Homo sapiens: one gene and its partner. The protein of the gene in region 1 purifies or fractionates together with the protein of each later gene. This does not show direct contact. Each region holds a gene or a part of one and is shown on either strand. Other genes may lie near its edges.

What was found. Proteins that work in one complex are often made in the same cells at the same time.
Region 2: the proteins of UBE2Q2 (region 1) and ARPC2 purify together in Homo sapiens (affinity purification with mass spectrometry, with the first as the bait; one study listed by BioGRID). This does not show direct contact.

What each region holds. Positions count from the first base shown.
Region 1 is NC_000015.10:75,849,233-75,854,568, reverse strand, and holds part of UBE2Q2 (ubiquitin-conjugating enzyme E2 Q2), read right to left. Parts: intron 184-5,336; coding exon 82-183; intron 1-81.
Region 2 is NC_000002.12:218,244,104-218,248,867, reverse strand, and holds part of ARPC2 (actin-related protein 2/3 complex subunit 2), read right to left. Parts: intron 3,449-4,764; coding exon 3,322-3,448; intron 3,043-3,321; exon of another isoform or gene 2,950-3,042; intron 1-2,949. UniProt on the Homo sapiens protein: Actin-binding component of the Arp2/3 complex, a multiprotein complex that mediates actin polymerization upon stimulation by nucleation-promoting factor (NPF).

The sequences.
Region 1 (5,336 bases):
TATCATATTATCTCTTAACATTTAATTTCTATATGTAATGTTCATGAGGAAAAGAGAAAATAGCTTGGCTTATTTTCTTACCAAATTGTTGTTCTTAGTATCTTCTAGACGTTCCAGAACTGATGTCAGATTTGGGTCTTCAGAATCCACAAACCATATCGGTGAAGAAGATGGATAGGATTCCTGTTTAACACAGAGACACATGTTAAACATTTACATACAGACTAACCCAAATATGCAATTAAACCACACCACTAAACGGCAAGATGACCATGGATTTAAACAAAATGTATGGGGGGAAAAGGCAACATATTAAAAACCTTGTGAGGAGCTGGACTTTTGAGACAACCATTCTCCTTGCATAGCACTGTCTGTTGCTACAGCTCATAGAAGTCAATGATTTTCTTCAACACTGGTAGGCAGCCTCTAAAATGGCCCCGATCACCATCACCTCCTGGCATTCACACCCTTGTAAAATTCCCGCCCCTGGACCTAGTGACTCACTTCTAACAAAGAGAATACAGCAAAAGTAATAACATCACTTCTGAGATTAGGCTACAAAGAGACTATGATGTCTGCCTTGCCCATCCTTCTCCTGCTCTTTCCATTGCTCCCTCTGATGGAAACCAGTTGCCATGTGATGAGGTGCCCTATGGAGAGACCTACATGGCGAGGTATTATAAAAGGCCTCAGACCAACAGCCATCCAGAAACGGAGGCCCAGTCCCACAGCCTGTGAGATGAATCCTGCCAACATCTACATAAGTGAGCTTGGAGACTGATTCTCTCCCTATCCTGCCTTAGGATGATCACAGCTGCCACCAACAACTTCGCTGCCTGGTGAGAGGCCAAGCCAGTGAACCCAAGGTAAATTGCACAAAATCCTGACCCACAGAAATGGTGAGATAATGTTTGTTGCTTTAAGCTGATAAATTTGTTACAGAGCAATAGAAAAGTAATTCAAATACCATAAAATTCTAATGTTTTAATCTATCACACAAACCAAGTACTACCAAGAAATGCCATTACTACATATATATACACACATACATACATACATACATATATATATATATATAATTTTTTTTTCTTTTTTTCCTCGAGACAGAGTCTTGCTCTGTGGCCCAGGCGGAGTGCATGGCACAATCTCGGCTCACTGCAACCTCCGCCTCCTAGGTTCAAGCGATTCTCCTGCCTCAGCCTCCCGAGTAGCTGGGATAACAAGCACATGCCACCACGCCAAGCTAATTTTTTGTATTTTTATTAGAGACGGGGTTTCACCATGCTGGCCAGGCTGGTCTTGAACTCCTGATCTCGTGATCAGCCCACCTCAGCCTCCCAAAGTGCTGGGATTACAGGCGTGAGCCACTAAGCCAGGCCCATATCTTTTTTAAAACACAATTACATGTGATTTCTTTAAAAAGCTAATGAACTAAGCATTATGTGCTTTCACCCACTAACAGACATTTACTCTGTTACTTTGTATGATTTTCTATTATAAATTGGGGAAAAGCCATTATTATCGTATATTAGCTTCAGAACAACTAGGTTCAAGTCATGGAAAACAATTTCACAGAAACGATTTTAGGAAACACTGCTTTGAGAACTATAATCTGATTTATAGCTGAAGCCACAGAAACTGAATATTTTTAAAGCATTTTACCAAATGTTCTTTTAAGAATAAGTTGTATTGATGGAGGACATCATTAATAGTATACCTGGTCAATAATGGGTTATTTACTATTTTCATTCCTCTAACTCTTACTGTGCCCCAAATCTCTTTACAGGCTAAATGAGAAACTCTCCAGAATTAATCCTGTTCTTAACACCACTTATTGAGTACTGCATTTTCTTCTTCAAATTCTTCAGCACACATTGGGAATACACCATCTGGACCATTTTTACTGTTTTAGTTTTTAGGTTTCTTTTCCCTTAGGCTAAAGAAACTGCAACTACACTTAGGATCTCATTATTAGGTTAGTATTTGTCTAGTAAACTTCAGCATAAGCCAAGAAACATACATGTCTTCACTCTGGACTGAAACCCCTCAAAACCATATTAAGAAAATTACAAAAACAATTAACTGAAATCATGTTTTTAATCTTGTAGATGAAAAGATATGATACACTGTAGATCTAAGTACCTATTTCAATGGTTCCCAAAGTGGGGACCTCAGACCCCCAGGTCCAAACTATTTTTACAAGAATACTAACATGTTGACATATGCTGTAAGGGTGCAGATACAATGGTGGGTAAAAACGCTGGCACTTTAGCACAAATAAAGGCGGTAACACCAAACTACTAGTAGTCATGGTATTCTTCACTATGCACAGGAAAGGCTTAAAAAGGAAGGGCAACAAAAGGTCAGTTTCATTTAAGAATGTCTACGATAAGGCTGGGAATGGTGGCTCATGCCTGTAATCCCAGCACTTTGGGAGGCCGAGGCAGGAGGATCACTTGAGCCCAGGAGTTCAAGACCAGCCTGGCCAACAGGGTGAAACCCCATCTCTACAAAAAAAAATAAAAAAATTAGCTAAGCATGGTGGTTGCACGCCTGTAGTCCCAGCTACTAGGGAGGCTGAGGCAGAAGGATTGATTGAGCCCAGAAGGTCGAGTCTCCACTGAGCTGTGATCACGCTACTGCACTCCAGCCTGGGTGACAGAACAAGGCCCTGTCTCAAAAATAAAAAGAATGTCTATGATGAAGCAGTGAAAATTTTACTACATCTGAATCCTTGAATATGTCTTTTTAATATTTCAAGTGATGAAACGGGAAGTATACATGAGCATTCCTACAGACTGCCTGAGAAAAAACCCTTGTGTGACTAAGTCATGAAGTGAATTAACCACTTAAATGGAATACCATTTTTACTTGAAAGGATAACTGACGATGTTATTTCAACTTGGGTTTTTGGCAGTCATTTTCCTCAAAAAATGAGATTCTGTCATTTCAAGGAAAACAACAGACAGGCCATAATAAATTTCAATAATAAAACTGCTAATAATAAAATGCAAGTTTTTGAACAAAAAATTAGAATTTTTGAAAACTTGTATCCACCACCGTTTTCCAAGAATATCCTGATAACATTGATGGCAATATTGATGAATGTATTTTGATACTGTAAAATCAAATGTATCAACATTTAGAAGATCTCGGTGAACCACTATTTTCTAAATGACCAATGCATGATGTTATAATATCATACAAGGGTAAAAGATCCAAAGTTCAAGAAAGACCAAGTTTTGATAGAGCATCAAAAAAGAAGCCTAGGCAACATGGCAAAACCCTGTCTCTACAAAAAAATACAAAAAATTAGCCAGTAAGATGGCCTACACCTGAGTCCCAGGAGACTGAGGGTGCAGTGAGCTGTGATCACACCACTGCACTCCAGCCTGGGCAACACAGTGAACCCCCATCTCAAAAAAAAAAAAAAGAAGAATATCCAGGATTATCTAAAATGGCCATTAAAATATTCACAATTTTTCCAACCAGGTATCTGTATAAGGTTGGATTTTGTTTACATTATTTCAAGCAAATAGCATACAACAAATTAAATGCAAAAGCAAATGACAGAGCAAACATCAATGAAATTTGCAAAAAATTTAAGACTGTGCTACTATTCTATTTTTTGGCTTAGAAAATTTTGTTTCGTAAAAGCACATTTATAATAATATGTGATGAGTTTTTAAAGAGTTAATGTTTTAAATATTTCTGATTTAACTTGTAGTGATAAATACCAATAGACGTAACTTACATAAACCAAAGCCCTTAAGTGCTGAATATATTTTCAAGAGTGTAAAGGAGTCCTGACCCCAAAACTTTGAGAACTGCTGCCTTCCCCTCCACTTTCCTTCCTTCCTTAGAATTCTTTCCTTGGAAGAAACATCCCTTTGCCATTCTATATTAACTTACATAGTTCCATTGAGACCAGTTTTGCTACCTCCCTCCCATCTTTCCTCCTCCCTCTCTTGACACAAAACCTGACCAAAGGACTCTACCAGCCCACCCCATTTCCAGTGATTAGCTGTCAGGTGGGCTAAGCCAAGAAAATCTGGGTTTTCCCTGAAGCTAGACCTCTAGTTCTGGGAGATCTGGAATCACAGGGACAAGGATGGCCACCTTGGGGTGGTCAGAATTCATCTTGCCTACACGTAAGGAGTAAGTTATAACACGGATCTACAATATTGTTGAGTGAAAAAGCAGATTACAAAAAAATCTGATTTTTTAAGGGAGAGGGAACACACATAAGCATCGGAGAAAAGAGATGAGCAGATAACTGGAAAGATACAAAATTCTGATAGTGGTATATTCTGAGTGGTAGAATCATATCTCCTAGTTTTGACTAAATTTCTTTTAATGTCTTACAATAAGAAGGTTTTGTTTTCCATATTATAAAATATCCACCACGCCAGGAAACTTAACCTTCAGCACAAACTCTACATCATGTTCAAGGTTTGTTCAGTTTAACATTTAAGAGAGAATCTACTTTGAAAGACATCTAAAATAATGACCAATATTTAAACCTATGTATTAATATTTTCAATCTTTCACATGCTTTAAGTTTTGTAATTTTGATAAGGTTAACTAAGCTTTATATCTATCTTGAAAAGATAAGTTTGCCTACTATTTCTCTTTAAAATAAATATGACCTATGGTATATCAGTTTTTAAACAGTGAATGGTGCTCAAAAATCCCAATACAAATTCAGGCAGTTTTCCCGTACATAGAATGTTTAAGTGCTTCTAGCACCACTCTTTTTCACCACAGTTATGAAAACACAGAACAATTATCTAAGCATCTAATTACTCAGGTCCTTTGTTCCTCATCCATTCTATTAGTTTTATAGTAATTCTAAGGCCTGTGAGAATGAAGTTGTCTGTGAAGCTACCATAAACATTACTGTAAGTGGACAAATTTCAAACAAGTTCATCACCACTACCATCCCCACCATAAAACTGTCTTAATGGAGGGAAACACAACTCAAGATTAACCAAACCAACCTCTTTACCTGTCACTGCTCAAGAAAAAGATTTTTTTGTCTTATTTAGAAGTAACTTTCTGTATCTATTTTTCTCCATAAATCCACTGAGACCATTGTGTGGCTCTATCTCAAGCACCAGCAACCAAAACTGGTTGACCAGAATGGTCAGTTTTTGTATCTTTCCAAATGTAGGACACAGCTATCTTCAGGGATTTCATCATTTTTTTAAAACTGATGCACAAACTTCTGGAAGGTTCAGAGATAACAGCAGTTGTAATTCTTCTGAAGGCCAGTTATGGGACACATTACTTTCATAGTTTGCTGTTCAATAAATGTGGGGTGGAGAACGAAGTAA
Region 2 (4,764 bases), on another chromosome or scaffold:
GGTGTAAGGACCTGAACCCTCATGATAGGCCAGGCAGGAGGAGCTGCTCTGAATGGGCCTGACTGAAGTCCACCCTGTGACACCAGCCACCTAAAGACCTGTGTGAGGCTGGGCGCGATGGCTCACGCCTGTAATCCCAGCACTTTGGGAGGCTGACGCAGGCTGATCATCTGAGATCAGGAGTTTTGAGACCAGCCTGGCCAACATGGTGAAACCCCATCTCTACTAAAAATATAAAAATTAGCCACATGTGATGGCGTGTGCCTGTAATCTCAGCTACTTAGGAGGCTGAGGCAGGAGAATCGCTTAAACCCGGGGGGTGGAGGTTGCAGTGAGCCAAGACGGTGCCACTGCACTCCAGCCTGAGTGACAGAGCAAGACTCCATCTCAAAAAAAGACCTGTGTGCTCATCACAAAGTCCTTTGCACTACAGCAGGCCTGCATGCCCCTCTTGCCCTGGTTTTCTGGAATCGTTTTTACCTGCTGCACCTCCTCTACTCACTATCTGCAAAACCCCGTCAGTTGTCTGAAGTTTTCGTTGAAATGAAAAGGAATGCCTCCTAAGGAAGTGTGGAATTTCTGTGTCAATGTGCCCTGGCCTGAAAGTAAATGAACACCACAACAGAAGACAACTATACTTCAAAGAATCTAAGGTGCTTATGACTGTAAGTCTGCCATAATTTTATGTACCACAAGAGAAACATGCTGCCAATTAAAGTGTGACATGCTATGAATTGTAAGATGCATCCCAGCTTCAAAGACAAAAACTTGAAAAAAATGGTATAGCTGGCTGGGCGCAGTGGCACACGCCTGTAATCCCAGCACTTTGGGAGGCTGAAGTGAGTGGATTGCTTGAGGCCAGGAGTTGAGATCAGCCTGGCCAACATGGAAACCCTGTTTCTTTTTTTTTTTTTTAATTTTTTTTGAGACGGAGTCTTGTTCTGTCGCCCAGGCTGGAGTGCAGTCGCGTGATCTTGGCCTATTGCAAGCTCCGCCTCCCAGGTTCACGCCATTCTCCTGCCTCAGCCTTCAGGGTAGCTGGGACTACAGGCACCCACCACCACGCCCAGCTAAGTTTTTGTATTTTTTGTAGAGATGGGGTTTCACTGTGTTAGCCAGGATGGTCTCGATCTCCTGACATCGTGATCCACTTGCCTCGGCCTCCCAAAGTGCTGGGATTACAGGCGTGAGCCACCGTGCCCAGCTGGAAACCCTGTTTCTACTGAAAATACAAAAATTAGCCGGGTGTGGTGGCACACGCCTGTGGTCCCAGCTACCTGGGAAGCTGAGGCACGAGAATTGTTTGAGCCTGGGAAGCAGAGGTTGCAGTGAGCCGAGATCACACCACTGCACTCCAGCCTGGGTGACAGAGAGAAAGAAAAAAGAAAAAAGTGTATAGTTTAGATTTAATGAAATTTGGTAAATCAACAGATTCATCACCAATAAACAGGTTCACCTTTACCACTGAGGTGAATTAAATTACATTTCACAAAGGAGACATTCCAGTGGCATTGGGTGCAGTGTGAACAAGCTTATTAATTCCAAACTGTAAGCTATCATAATCAGCCAGTGCATGAGGCTGGAGCAACTGAAGGAAGACCTGAATTTATTCCGCGAAAAAGTGGAGTAAGTGGATCACGGCTGGAGCTTGGGCTTAATAAGCAAAAAACCAAGAATTGCCAAATGACAGAGAACCCCCATCTAGCTGCTTAGGTGGTTCTCTTCTTAACTCCTTTTTTTGGTGAGATAGGGTCTCACTCTGCCACCCAGGCTGGAGTGTAGTGGTGCCATCACAGCTCACTGCAGCCTCTACCTCCTGGGTTCAAGTGATCCTCTCACCTCAGCCTCTCAAGTAGCTATGACTACAGTCATGCACCACCATGCCTAGTTATCTTTTTTTTTGAGACAGTCTCCCAGGCTGGAGCGCAGCAGGATGATCTCGGCTTGCTGCAACCTCCACTTTCTGGGTTTAAGCAATTGCCATGCCTCGCTTGCCCGAGTAGCTGGGACTATAGACTATAGGCACATGTCACCATGTCCAACTAATTTTTGTATTTTTAGTAGAGGTGTGGTTTCACCATGTTGGCCAGGTTGGTCTCGAACTTCTGACCTCAAGTGATCTGCTCGCCTTGGCCTCTTAAAGTGCTGGGATTACAGGTGTGAGCCACTGTGCCTGGCCCCTTGCTTTTTGTAGAGATGAGCCTGCACCATGTTATCCAGGCTGGTCCCAAACTCCTGGACCCAAGTGACCCACCAACCTCGGACTCCCAAAGTGCTGGGATTACAGGTATGAGCCACTGTGCCCCGCCTATCCTTTACTCTTTTCTTTTTTCTTTTTGAGACAAGGTCTCACTCTGTCATCCAGGCTGGAGTGCAATGGTGTGATCTCAGCTCACTGCAACCTCCGCCTCCTGGGTCCAAGGGATTCTTGTGCCTCAGCCTCCCGAGTAGCTGGGATTACAGGCGCACACCACCACGCCCAGCTAATTTCTTTGTTATTTTTTTGGTAGAGACGGAGTGTTTCACCATGTTGGTCAGGCTGGTCTCGAACTCCTGACCTCAGGTGATCTGCCCATGTTGGCCTCCCACAGTGCTAGGATTACAGGCGTGAGACACCGCACCCAGCCTCAACTCTTTTTTTTTTTTTTTGGAGACAAGAGTCTTGTTCTGTTGCCCAGGCTGGAGTCCAGTGGCACGATCTCAGCTCATTACAACCTCCACCTCCCGGGTTCAAGCAATTCTCCTGCCTCAGCCTCTGGAGTACCTGGGACTACAGACGTGCGCCACCATGCCCAGCTAATTTTTTTTTGTATTTTAGTAGAGACAGAGTTTCACCACATTGGCCAGGATGATCTTGATCTCCTGACCTCGTGATCCACCTGCCTTAACCTCCCAAAGTGCTGTGATTACAGCCATGAACCACCGTGCCCAGCCAAAACTGTACTTGTCTCCTTCAAGCTGGAATCGAACCAGCAACCTAAGGACGTCTCCTACTGAGGAAGTAGCTATAGTCCTCTGCTCTACCAGCTGAACTATTGAAGGGACCTTAACTCTTGATATCAGAATTCAGTCTTATTTTTAAGATTTAAGAAAAATGGGGAAAAAAAGGAAAGGATTACTGTACAAAAATAGCATATGGCCTGCTCTGTAATTAATACCCTGTGACATCCCTCCTTTAGTCACTGCAATGGCAACAGGAACAAGTTGGTATGCCTGCGTTTGCCTACCTTAAAATGTTAACCAAGGTTCTGTGCAGATTTAGGTATTCTGCTGTGTGAACTCATTAAAGCGGCACAAAAGCAGCAAGTGCACCCTGCTCACCAAAGGTAATGTAGCCAATGTTGTCACCCACAGCGGCGTCTGTGTCTTTCAGCTCCAGAGGAGGTTCCCTGTGGCTAAAGAGGACCTGTGGGGCTGTGTGGCTGGCTCTGCGTCCTTCTTTGAACTCCTGCCAAGACAAAGCAAAAGCAACCAGAAGAGAAGTGGGTGTAAGATGAGTGGCAACTCAAGCTATAGGGTTTGTTCTATGTGGTGTGACCTTTGTAGCCCTCCAGACCAGCAGGAGGTTAAAAATAAACTACACCAAACCTGAAATATGACAAGTGCTAGCTGCTACCACTACACTTCAGATTCAAACGGGAGAGACTGCAAAGTACTTAATAAGTCAGATCTTCAAAATGTGATGAAAAGTAGTGATAATCCTTTTCCTTTGCACTAACATAGGTGATAAACTACCATACTTTCTCTGGGCTCTGGGACTTTGCATGAGTCTTTTTTCACTGAGGATCCTGTTGCTATTTAGAATTCATCAATAAAATCTTTAGAGCAAACTTAAGCTCTTCTTGCGGACAGAAGACAATGGAATGAAAGAAGCTGAGTTGTCTTGGTGCTCATAAAGGAAGCCCTTCCTTCTATGTTCCAATCTCCAAACCTGAAGCTTCTACAGTCCATACATTCCTATGTAAATAGACAAGTAATACAAGGCTTCTCTCTCTCAGCCAGATCTGCAAGAACAGAAGTAGATTTTCTAGCAATGCCAGTAAAACTGGATAATCCAAATTCATCAAGTGGGCCTTCCAAGATGATAGACAGCAGGAGGATGCTGCCAAGGACTCTCCAAGGTCTCTTGTTTTAGGAGTTCTGAAGGCATGGTTACACAGCCATGTGGCCTGCGTGCCCTTCTACTGCTGCTCAAATACTGCCTCCTAATACCATCTCCAACAAACCCAGGCAGGTACTGCTCTCTTGCTGGAGCTGCCATGTCTTTTCTACAAACCTCTACTATGATATTTTACCATTCATTAATGTATCTGGCTCCCCTACCAGGTTATGAGTTCAAATCAAAGATCCTGCTTAATTTATCTTTGTAATTTATTCTTCTGTCTTTCAAAGAGGCTATGCAGCACATGCCTTGCTGAGAGAAAGCAAGTGCTTCTACCCTAGCTGGTTTAGTATCATCACACTGTACAGGAATAGGCAAGGGCTGTTTCCAGTTGCAGGCAGGAAGAATAAACACTGATTAGCAAGCCCTCTCGACAATTAGTGGCAAAAGAAAGATGATGGCTGAGGAGCCCCAATGCCCAGCCTGGGACCTCACCTATTTCACAAACTGCCTCTCATGCTAACACTACCAAGCTTTAAGTAGGAAAAGAAATGACCATCAACTGGGTTAGATTAGTCCCCTTTTGAACAGATTTTGTTCCCCGAAGGAAAAATATCCAAAAAGGAAGGGAAGGAGTCAAGATTATCCCAAATGGAAATTTC